3 linked regions of the Homo sapiens genome follow. The protein of the gene in region 3 interacts with the protein of the main gene of each other region in a pairwise test. Each region holds a gene or a part of one and is shown on either strand. Other genes may lie near its edges. The genes, in order: MTARC2, IDI1 and CAT.

Region 1 (3,650 bases), on a different chromosome or scaffold from region 3:
AAATCCTCTTCCACCTCCCAACAGCTTCCCTCCAGCTTTCTACTTCCTCAGAACTCTCCACCCACCCCGTCTTGGGACCTAACAATCATTTTCCAGACAATTATCCAGGTCTGGCCAAATGATTTGGGTCTAAAAGTTGGTGACCCCAGAAAGAGCTTATTTGGCGGAAACAGTTCTGGGAGAGTGTCTGGCTGATGTATGGCAATCTCCAGTTTCAAAAACAAGAACATGAGCCTGGCTCAGAGACTCTCCCTCACTGCTTAGTCAACCCTGCTGCTTGTCTGGGGGTTCTGCTTTGGTTAGAAGCTTCTGCAGGTCTGTTAAATATGTCTCTGTGGCCCTGGGAGAAGTAAAATAGCTTTCAGGTCCTTTTGTTGTAGAACAAGATGAGGTTGGCCAAGTGAGTTTGAGTCTGAGACAAAGGTCTTGCAATGTTGCTGCCTCCAAGCGGAACCAGGCCAGCCTCTGCTCTGTTTAACTTGCCGCGGCATGCGGGGGTCCTACATCAGGAAACCTCCCAAACAGCCTTTCCTCTTCATGCACACATTCTGACATAGAGAACAAAGACACACAGAAGTCACATGTTAGATAAGAATCCCACTTATTTCCTAGAGAGCCCACTGTACTGGACTTGGTTTTCTTACTTTGTATTTCTATGGGATGAGCTGAAGAGTGAGGGGAAGCTGGCCAGGCCCAGTTGGTTAGGCTTTTACCTACAGCCTAGCATATAGGTTGGGGCTGTACCACACAAAAGACTGTGTTGCCAAAAAGAAAAAAATCTTCCACTCCTAGGGAAAATAAATTTCAATATCACAGTTTAGTTTCATTTTGTTTTGTTTCGTTTAGTTGTTTTGTTTCATTTCGTTTGAGACAGAGTCTCACTCTGTCAGCCAGGCTGGAGTGCAGTGGTACAGTCTAGCTCACTGCAACCTCCACCTCCTTGGTTCAAGTGATTCTCTTGCCTTAGCCTCCCGGGTAGCTGGGATTACAGGTGTGTACCACCACGCCCAGCTAATTTTTGTACTTTTAGTAGAGATGGGGTTTCGCTATGTTGGCTGGGCTGGTCTTGAACTCATGGCCTCAAGTGACCTGCCGCCTCAGCCTCCCAAAGTACTGGGATTATAGGCATGAGCCACTGTGCCTAGCCCAATATCACTATTTTAGAAAGAAGATAGAATCTGCAGACTAGCGGGTGAGGAAAATGCAGGCACTGATAAGTAAAAATTGTCTGAAAGCCAGAGGCTTTCCAAATGTGAGGAGGATAAAAAGCACAGCCCCTTCCAGAAGCAGGGGCGGCTCCTCCCAGGGAGACATTCCAAAATATGACCAGAGCCATCAGGGAAAGGCTGAGGAGACCTCAGGAGGACATCCAATATCCCAGCACAGGGAGCTCCGTCTCTGCCCTGTCCTGACCCTGACAGATAGTCTTACATCTGCAACCTCCTTATCCGTAAAGTCCTTTCCAGGTGCTGGCTAAACTGTCCCTTCCCCGCAACCACACCAGAAGACAATGGCTGGCAGCCTGTGCTCTGCTAACTGGCATTATGATGGTGTGGCAGTGTAAAGGCATTCCAGTAACTGTCTTGACTACCTGCTTCCAAAAAGCTGGTGACACTGGGTAGCAGCAAGTCCCCACCCCACTGAGGAGACCACCTTTTTCTTTCTTTCTTTTTTTTTTCTTTTTTTCTGAGACGGAGTCTCACTCTGTCACCCAGGCTGGAGTGCAGTGGCACGATCTCGGCTAACTGCAAGCTCCACCTCCTGGGTTCACACCATTCTCCTGCCTCAGCCTCCCATGTAGCTGGGACTACAGGCACCCGCCACCATGCCCGGCTAATTTTTTGTATTTTTTTTTTTTTTTTTTTAGTAGAGACAGGGTTTCACCGTGTTAGCCAGGATGGTCTCGATCTCCTGATCTCATGATCTGCCCACCTCGGCCTCCCAAAGTGTTGGGATTACAGGCGTGAGCCACCGTGCCCAGCCCACCATTTCCTAAGTGTATATATGCATATGTGTATTATTTATTCATTTATATATATTTATACTTAATTAATATCAAGAGAGAGGGAGACAGGGTCTCACTCTATCACCCAGGCTCTGGAGTACAGCGGCGTGATCTTAGCTCATGGCAGCCTTGAACTGCTGGGCTCAAGCGATCCTCCTGCCTCAGTCTCCTGAGTAGCTGGGACTACAGGCACACACCACCACGCCCAACTGATCTTTTTATTTTTTGTAGAGATGGGGTCCCACTGTGGTCTGGACCTCCTGGCTGGTCTGGAACTCCTGGCTCAATTAATCCTCCCTCCTTGGCCTCCCAAAGTGCTGAGATTACAGATGTGAGCCATCCTGCCTGGTCAAAGATGTCTTTAGATCCCACAGTTCTCTGGCTCACTCATCCTGGGGCTGGGTTCTGTAAATCTGAGGATGTCTGCCCAGAGAATGGGGCTACAGTGAAATAGGCAGGCATCCACTGACTTAGATGCCTCACAGGGCTGGGCCCTATTCCCTATTTCCAGCCTTGTCCCTTGGTGCACATTTCTTTGGTTAGCCTCACTAAAGCCTTCACCCTTAACTTCCAACATGCCCCTTCCCCAGACAAGACTCCCTTTGAGATCTGCACACAACCAGAGCCATGTCCAAACAGGAGTGGCAAACCTGTTTGCACATTATTTCTGACATTATTTCTCCATGGGCTGAATCTTCTCATCTCCCATTCATCCCTTATTAATGTCGCCCTTCACCGTGGCTCACAGCCTGGCCTGTGGCTCCAGACTGTTGTATAATAATACAGGTGTTAACTGCTGAGGTTAACAGTGGGAAGTTGTCACTAGAGGTTTCCCACTCATCACTGTCACTGAAAAACTGGCAACTTACAGGGAGTCCAATTTTGGAACAGGACAAATACAGCAATCACAGGTTAAAAGGTTACCATTTGTAACATACCCCAACCATCTCATTTCCCTGTCAACCTGGGCAATATTATTTTTCACCTCTTGTGCACAAAATGATGCCCAGTGAATGAATAACTAGTTCTATTCTGCCAGATCTGAAAGAAGAGATAAGTCTGGAGCATAGATTTCATCATAACCAAGTTACCCCAACCTAGTCTGCAACACTAAAAGCCAGCACCTTGAATTCACAGGTAAAACATGAGTATGTGGTAGAGGGATCAGTGTAGAAGCCTGGAGCCCCGATTCCCCAAAAGAGCTATAGAGCCCCGAACAACCAACAGCAACGGGTAAGTGGAGCCCAAAACAACAGAAAAAAATATCATTTCTCAATTACAAACTGGCCTGGGGAGCAGGAAGGACTGAAAAGTGAGGGAAAGCAGGAACTCTACTACTGAGTGTGGGAGGAGAAAAACAGCAGGAATTGGGCAGGGAATAACACCCTGGACAATAATAAACTTAAGGGATTCCTTTCTCCAACAGTTCATCATTTGTGCAGAAGAAATAAAGGACTGGCTTCAGTAAGGGTTTAGAGAGATAAAACTGATCAACTCACATATGGCTGCTAAGGAGAGCAGAGATTTCCAAGGTCAGGGAGGACAAGCACGCCCTCCCAGCAACTGCACCAGGCACCGAATGCCAGCATTCTGCCAGGTGGACTTTAAACACTCAATGCTTAGGGTGCTCAAGCCAAGTGTTCAC
Region 2 (4,317 bases), on a different chromosome or scaffold from region 3:
AACAGGCTTCAGCTACACATGACCCAGAACTGGAATAATTAAGTAATAATTATCTTTTTATTCATCTTTCTTAAATGTATGTATAGCTCACATTTATTTCAATGTTTAATATTAGAATACTTTGGCCTTTAGAAGCTTAGTGATTTTTTTTTTCCTTGGCCAGAAGTATGCTTTAGGAACTTAATCCTTATTTTTTAGCCTCTGGTAAAATTGGTTTTGCTATACGTTGTTTCACTTAAAAGTCCTGATTCCCAAGAACGCACTGACAGCAGTGAGGACTTGCTGCGCATGCGGGAGGCCAGATTTTCTTATCTGTGTGAAGCCAGACATGAAAGAGATCTGTCAACACATAAAACAAAATCAAAGTCTGTTTTTTGTCTGGAAAAGATTTTTAATAAAAATATAACTTATGTTAGTGTCGTGTGTTTTTTAAGTGAATATTTTAATATGTTTAATTTCTATGTTAGTAAATAGCAGTAGTAAACAACAGTGAGCAAAAGCTTTTAGGTGTCCTCAGTACATTTTAAGAGAGTGCAAGCGTCCTGTGACCAAGAAGTTTGAGAACTGGTGCCCACCAGGTTCATCTCACAAGTTCAGTATTTTAAATTCCACACAAAAGGTAGAGGAAATAGCTGAATTCGCTTCAGCTGCGCATACATTTCACGATTATTTAAAAGTTTAGAGGGCTAGGCGCGGTGGCTCACACCCGGAATCTCAGCACTTCGGTAAGCTGAGCCAGGTGGATCACTTGAGGTCAGGAGTTCCAGACCAGCCTGACCAACATGCGGAAACCCGTCTCTACTAAAAATACGAAATAAGCCGGGCGTGGTGGCGCATGCCTGTAATTCCAGCTACTTGGGAGGCTGAGACGGGACAATTGCCTGAACCCGGGCGGCGGAGGTTGCTGTGAGCGGAGACTGCACCATTGCACTCAAGCCTGGGCAACAAGAATGAAACTGTCTCAAAAAAAAAAAATTTAGAACGTAGTCATGTACCTCGAAAGCGAACACTCCCAACATAGCGTGGAACACCCCACACCCCCGGCGACTTTGCTCCGCCTTGGTCCCGGTCGCAGACACCGCAGAAAGGCCATCGTTCTAGACATACGAGAACTCCCCGTGCAGCCAAACGCTGTAGTCCCAGCGGCGGAACTCGGGGGGGGGGAGGGGGGGGAGTGCCCAACCAGCCAGTCAGCAGTGACGTCCCGCCTTTCCTCCGTTTCCATTGGTCCAGCCATGCGGAGGTCGCTCCCATGGGACGCCGAGCTTCCGGCTGCAGGGCTTGGCGCCCGGGCGCTTTCGGATTGGGAGGGCTTCCTCCATGGAACGCGAGCCTCGAGACGTCTGACGTTAGGCACCGTTCGCAGCGCCTCGGGCTCGCACGGCAGGATCGAAAGCGTGATTGGCTGGCGGCGTCTGTGGTCTCGGGCACCGCCCAGTCGCGGGACGCTGCCTCTGCGGAACTGGGGGTGGGGCGTGTTGACCCCCTTAAAGGCGCCAGAGCCCGCGGTCACGGCTCAGGTTCCCGGTGCTTCGCGCGTCTGCCGTTGTCACAGGCCAGGGAGGTGGCACCACCAGGCGAAGCTTGGCGAGATTGTGTCGTCAAGCGCGTACGGGCGCCAATTGGCCGGGCGATGTGGCGTGGACTGGCGCTGGCGCGAGCGATTGGCTGCGCGGCCCGGGGGCGGGGCCAGTGGGCGGTGCGCGCCGCAGACTGTGCTCAAAGCGGGCGCCATCCGGGACCGGCGGTTGTCTGTGGCCGGAGGCTGATCAGGTACTGTGGACGGGCGGCGGAGTTCGGGAGACAGGGGCAGGGCGGCATCGGGGAGCTGCGGGACGGGGCGGGGAGGAGGCCCGAGGTCTGAGCCACCCGTGAGGTCTCGGCGCGGAGGCCTGGACAGCTGGGGGTGGCGGCGTTGGTCTCCCGAACTGGAGGGAGGCCGGGCCTTCCCGGGCTGTGGTGGGCGCCCGCGCCCCGTGGAAGGCGGAGGCGTGAGTCGGGGCGTCAGAGACGTTGCCATTCTTTGTCAGCGGAAAAGATCGTCGTCTGCGCACAGTCACCTGAGGTTTAGGAACTCGTGGAACTGGAAACCGAGTCGCAGGAGACTAAGAGTTGCGAGTCTCCCCTTAGAGAATTCAGAAACAAGCGTAGACAGCATCGTCAGAAACACGAGCGTGACGACACCGGCCTCCCCGTGCCGAGTCCACGCGTGTGACGCGGGTGCATACACCTGCGTCCGTGCAAGAGGGTGACAGCAACACACTCAAGGCGCTTCTCCTGGGAATGGAGCAGGAGAAGAGATGGGGAGCATCGCATAGATGGAACTAGACCTTTTTCTTGGGTTGGATGATGTGTTCCCGCGTCTACTACATGGTATTCTTTAAACGCATAAATAGACGTATTCATTTTATCTTGTGATTATGCAGCTTAGCTTTAAAATCTGAATTCTGAAAATCCTGAAAGAGCAATTGTCATTACAGCTGGGCGGTGGTGCACGCCTTTAATCCCAGCACTTTGGGAGGCGGAGTCGAAGGCTGCAGTGAGCCGAGATCGCGCCACTGCACTCCAGCTTGGGCGACAGACATAGCAAGACCCAGCCCCATCCCCCCGGAAAAAAAGTCATGTCAAAAAGTCTAGTAATTATGTAGTAACGAAACCTATCTTAGTGATCACCTAATATACAGTTGGCCTACTGTATCCTTGGGGTCCATATCCATGGATTTAACCAACTGCACATTATAAAATATTTGGAAAAAAATTTCATCTGTACTGAACATATACAGACTTATTCTGTAAACAATACAGCACAACTATTTATGTAGGATTTACATGTTTTAGATACTATAAGAGATCATCTACAGATGATAATTTAACGTTCGGCCCGCATCACTTAACAGGGATACTTTGGAGAAGTTCATTGTTAGGTACTTTCATCATTGTGGAAGCAGAGTGCGCTGACGCAGACCTAGACAGTGGAGCAGCTGGGCTGTGTGGTGTAGACAGACGGTGGAGCAGCTGGGCTGTGTGGTGTAGACAGTGGAGCAGCTGGGCTGTGTGGTGTAGACAAAGGACCAGACAGTGGAGCAGCTGGGCTGTGTGGTGTAGACAGTGGAGCAGCTGGGCTGTGTGGTGTAGACAGTAGACAGTGGAGCAGCTGGGCTGTGTGGTGTAGACAGTGGAGCAGCTGGGCTGTGTGGTGTAGACAGTGGAGCAGCTGGGCTGTGTGGTGTAGACAGTGGAGCAGCTGGGCTGTGTGGTGTAGACAGTGGAGCAGCTGGGCTGTGTGGTGTAGACAGTGGAGCAGCTGGGCTGTGTGGTGTAGACAGTGGAGCAGCTGGGCTGTGTGGTGTAGACAGTGGAGCAGCTGGGCTGTGTGGTGTAGACAGTGGAGCAGCTGGGCTGTGTGGTGTAGACAGTGGAGCAGCTGGGCTGTGTGGTGTAGACAGTGGAGCAGCTGGGCTGTGTGGTGTAGACAGTGGAGCAGCTGGGCTGTGTGGTGTAGACAGTGGAGCAGCTGGGCTGTGTGGTGTAGACAGTGGAGCAGCTGGGCTGTGTGGTGTAGACAGTGGAGCAGCTGGGCTGTGTGGTGTAGACAGTGGAGCAGCTGGGCTGTGTGGTGTAGACAGTGGAGCAGCTGGGCTGTGTGGTGTAGACAGTGGAGCAGCTGGGCTGTGTGGTGTAGACAGTGGAGCAGCTGGGCTGTGTGGTGTAGACAGTGGAGCAGCTGGGCTGTGTGGTGTAGACAGTGGAGCAGCTGGGCTGTGTGGTGTAGACAGACAGTGGAGCAGCTGGGCTGTGTGGTGTAGACAGTGGAGCAGCTGGGCTGTGTGGTGTAGACAGTGGAGCAGCTGGGCTGTGTGGTGTAGACAGTGGAGCAGCTGGGCTGTGTGGTGTAGACAGTGGAGCAGCTGGGCTGTGTGGTGTAGACAGTGGAGCAGCTGGGCTGTGTGGTGTAGACAGTGGAGCAGCTGGGCTGTGTGGTGTAGACAGTGGAGCAGCTGGGCTGTGTGGTGTAGACAGTGGAGCAGCTGGGCTGTGTGGTGTAGACAGTGGAGCAGCTGGGCTGTGTGGTGTAGACAGTGGAGCAGCTGGGCGGTGTGGTGTAGACAGTGGAGCAGCTGGGCTGTGTGGTGTAGACAGACAGTGGAGCAGCTGGGCTGTGTGGTGTAGCCAGTTGCTCTTAGGCTGTTTTTCCTGTTGCTTCAGGCCTAAATTTGGACAGTGTGTGACTGTGCTGAATAATGTGGGCAGTTGTAACACAACAGCAAGTATTTGTGTATCTAAACATAGAAAAGGTGATGTGTTGTGCTCCGATGT
Region 3 (2,777 bases):
CCATGCCCGACTAATTTTTGTGTTTTTAGTAGAGATGGGGTTTTGCCATGTTAACCAGGCTGGTCTTGAACTACTGACCTCAGGTGATCCACCCATCTTGGCCTCCCAAAGTGCTGGGATTTCGGGCGTGAGCCACTGCGCCTGGCCTAGGTTGTATGGGTTTTTTTCCCCGACAATAAGCAATTCTGTAATTCTTTGACAGTAACTGTGTGTCCTATAACTCAATTCAATTCTAACAGTAGCTCCTGGAGCTAGAGTCAGAACCCAAAGATTTAGGGGTCATTTCCCACTTTAGATAACAAATGAGGTACCCTGGCTATGCACACTTCTGCAGATTCTGACTGCAAATCAAACCCTTTCCTCAGGTTTGATAATTTGCTGGAAAGACTCATAGAACTCAGGAAAATGATTTACTTATGATTACCAATTTATTATAAAGAATACAACTCAGGAATAGACAAATGGAAGAGGGGCATGGGGGAAGGCCTCGGAGCTTCTGTGCCTCCCTGAGTGGACCACCCTTCTAGCTCCTGGATGTGTGCACTAATCCAGACACTCCCTGACCTTGCCAGTTGTGGGTTTTTCTGGAGGTTTTATGACATAGGCATGATTGATGAAATTATTGGCTATGGGTGATTGAATACAATCTCCAGCCCCTCTCCCATCCCTGGAGGTTTGGGGGTGGGGCTAGAAGTTCTAACCTTCTGATCGCGTGCTTGTTCTTCCTGGTGTGAGCCTCCATCAGGAATCTATGTAGGCCCCCATGAATCATCTTAGTAGTATATAAAAGACAGTACATTCGAAGGGTTTTAGATCTGTGTCAGGAATGGGGGACAAAGACCAAATAGTATTTTTAAAATTATACTGATTAGGTGTCATTTTCTTGCGCATTTCGGCAGAGGGACATAAGCTCAGTAAGTTAAGTGACCTATCCGAGGTTGCTCAGCCAGTATATGTCAGAGTGTTCACTGGACCTGCATCTTAACTCTGAGGCTGGCATTGTTAAACACCTGTAGTACTGCCTCCTGCTGAAACGTCTTTCCTCCCCTATGGAATAAACACTGGGAAACCACAGTCCCTGGGGAGTGATATAGTAGGGAGTTAGAGTAATGCTTGCATTTATTTTCCTTTGGCCTTAGGTCAAGAACTTCACTGAGGTCCACCCTGACTACGGGAGCCACATCCAGGCTCTTCTGGACAAGTACAATGCTGAGAAGCCTAAGGTAAGCTGGGAGCAGCCTGGCCATGCAGAGGCTGTGTGTGCTGGGTTGGAGTAGGCATGACTTAGTTACCACTTAGCATTACAGTCTGCAGGGGCCATTACCTGCCACTGTTAGATTTCTTAGGCAGCTGTGCAGAAATTCATTTGAGAGATAAAGAATTCACTGGCAAAACACATACTCTTCATTTTAGCGCTGGGCAATTTAAGACAGTTAAAGTGAATGAATTCTGAATTATTATTTTCATTTGCATACATATTAAAACTGAGTAAATATCACGTTGCTGCCCATGAGGTGATTAACCTGCTCATCTTGTTCTTTTAAAACAGAATGCGATTCACACCTTTGTGCAGTCCGGATCTCACTTGGCGGCAAGGGAGAAGGCAAATCTGTGAGGCCGGGGCCCTGCACCTGTGCAGCGAAGCTTAGCGTTCATCCGTGTAACCCGCTCATCACTGGATGAAGATTCTCCTGTGCTAGATGTGCAAATGCAAGCTAGTGGCTTCAAAATAGAGAATCCCACTTTCTATAGCAGATTGTGTAACAATTTTAATGCTATTTCCCCAGGGGAAAATGAAGGTTAGGATTTAACAGTCATTTAAAAAAAAAATTTGTTTTGACGGATGATTGGATTATTCATTTAAAATGATTAGAAGGCAAGTTTCTAGCTAGAAATATGATTTTATTTGACAAAATTTGTTGAAATTATGTATGTTTACATATCACCTCATGGCCTATTATATTAAAATATGGCTATAAATATATAAAAAGAAAAGATAAAGATGATCTACTCAGAAATTTTTATTTTTCTAAGGTTCTCATAGGAAAAGTACATTTAATACAGCAGTGTCATCAGAAGATAACTTGAGCACCGTCATGGCTTAATGTTTATTCCTGATAATAATTGATCAAATTCATTTTTTTCACTGGAGTTACATTAATGTTAATTCAGCACTGATTTCACAACAGATCAATTTGTAATTGCTTACATTTTTACAATAAATAATCTGTACGTAAGAACAGAGATGGTATTTTCTTTCTTTCGACTCCATATGTAACTGTAAACTGCTACCAGACTCTTAATTTGAACATCATCATTTTCAGATGTTTACCCTTAAAAATGGAAATGCCAGTATCTCGAGGACTCCATGTTATTTGTTTAAATCTATAGCCTTTGGACAGCCTTCTGAGACACTGATAAAATAGCAAATGCCCCAACTTTGAAAATTACTTAAATCTCTTGTCCATTTGCTCACTTACCTGTGATTGACTTTTTAAAACAAGGGCTCAGAACCACTGGTCACTTTCCTCTTCCTTCTTTTTAAAGCCCATATTTGCCTATCATGGTTGAAAATCACATGGAAGACTTTAAAGATGAGTTCTGAATACTAAATGAAAATTTGTTTTCCTTGAAAATCTTTATTCCGTTCATATTCAAAACCAGTTTGTGCCGGGTGTGGTGGCTCATATGCCTGTAAACCCAGCACTTTGGGAAGCCAAGGCAGGAGGATCACTTGAACTCAGGAGTTTGAGACCAGCCGGGGCAACATGGCGAAG

Evidence for each region.
Region 1: the proteins of CAT (region 3) and MTARC2 come close enough for resonance energy transfer, tested with the Homo sapiens proteins (one large-scale study listed by BioGRID).
Region 2: the proteins of CAT (region 3) and IDI1 come close enough for resonance energy transfer, tested with the Homo sapiens proteins (one large-scale study listed by BioGRID).

What each region holds. Positions count from the first base shown.
Region 1 is NC_000001.11:220,751,266-220,754,915, reverse strand, and holds part of MTARC2 (mitochondrial amidoxime reducing component 2 isoform a precursor), read right to left. Parts: intron 3,587-3,650; exon of another isoform or gene 3,507-3,586; coding exon of another isoform or gene 3,505-3,506; intron 1-3,504. UniProt on the Homo sapiens protein: Catalyzes the reduction of N-oxygenated molecules, acting as a counterpart of cytochrome P450 and flavin-containing monooxygenases in metabolic cycles.
Region 2 is NC_000010.11:1,046,320-1,050,636, reverse strand, and holds the start of IDI1 (isopentenyl-diphosphate Delta-isomerase 1), read left to right. Parts: upstream 1-1,517; 5' UTR 1,518-1,633; coding exon 1,634-1,773; exon of another isoform or gene 1,774-2,318; coding exon of another isoform or gene 2,319-2,373; intron 2,374-4,317. UniProt on the Homo sapiens protein: Catalyzes the 1,3-allylic rearrangement of the homoallylic substrate isopentenyl (IPP) to its highly electrophilic allylic isomer, dimethylallyl diphosphate (DMAPP).
Region 3 is NC_000011.10:34,469,819-34,472,595, forward strand, and holds the end of CAT (catalase), read left to right. Parts: intron 1-1,139; coding exon 1,140-1,223; intron 1,224-1,549; coding exon 1,550-1,615; 3' UTR 1,616-2,242; downstream 2,243-2,777. UniProt on the Homo sapiens protein: Catalyzes the degradation of hydrogen peroxide (H(2)O(2)) generated by peroxisomal oxidases to water and oxygen, thereby protecting cells from the toxic effects of hydrogen peroxide.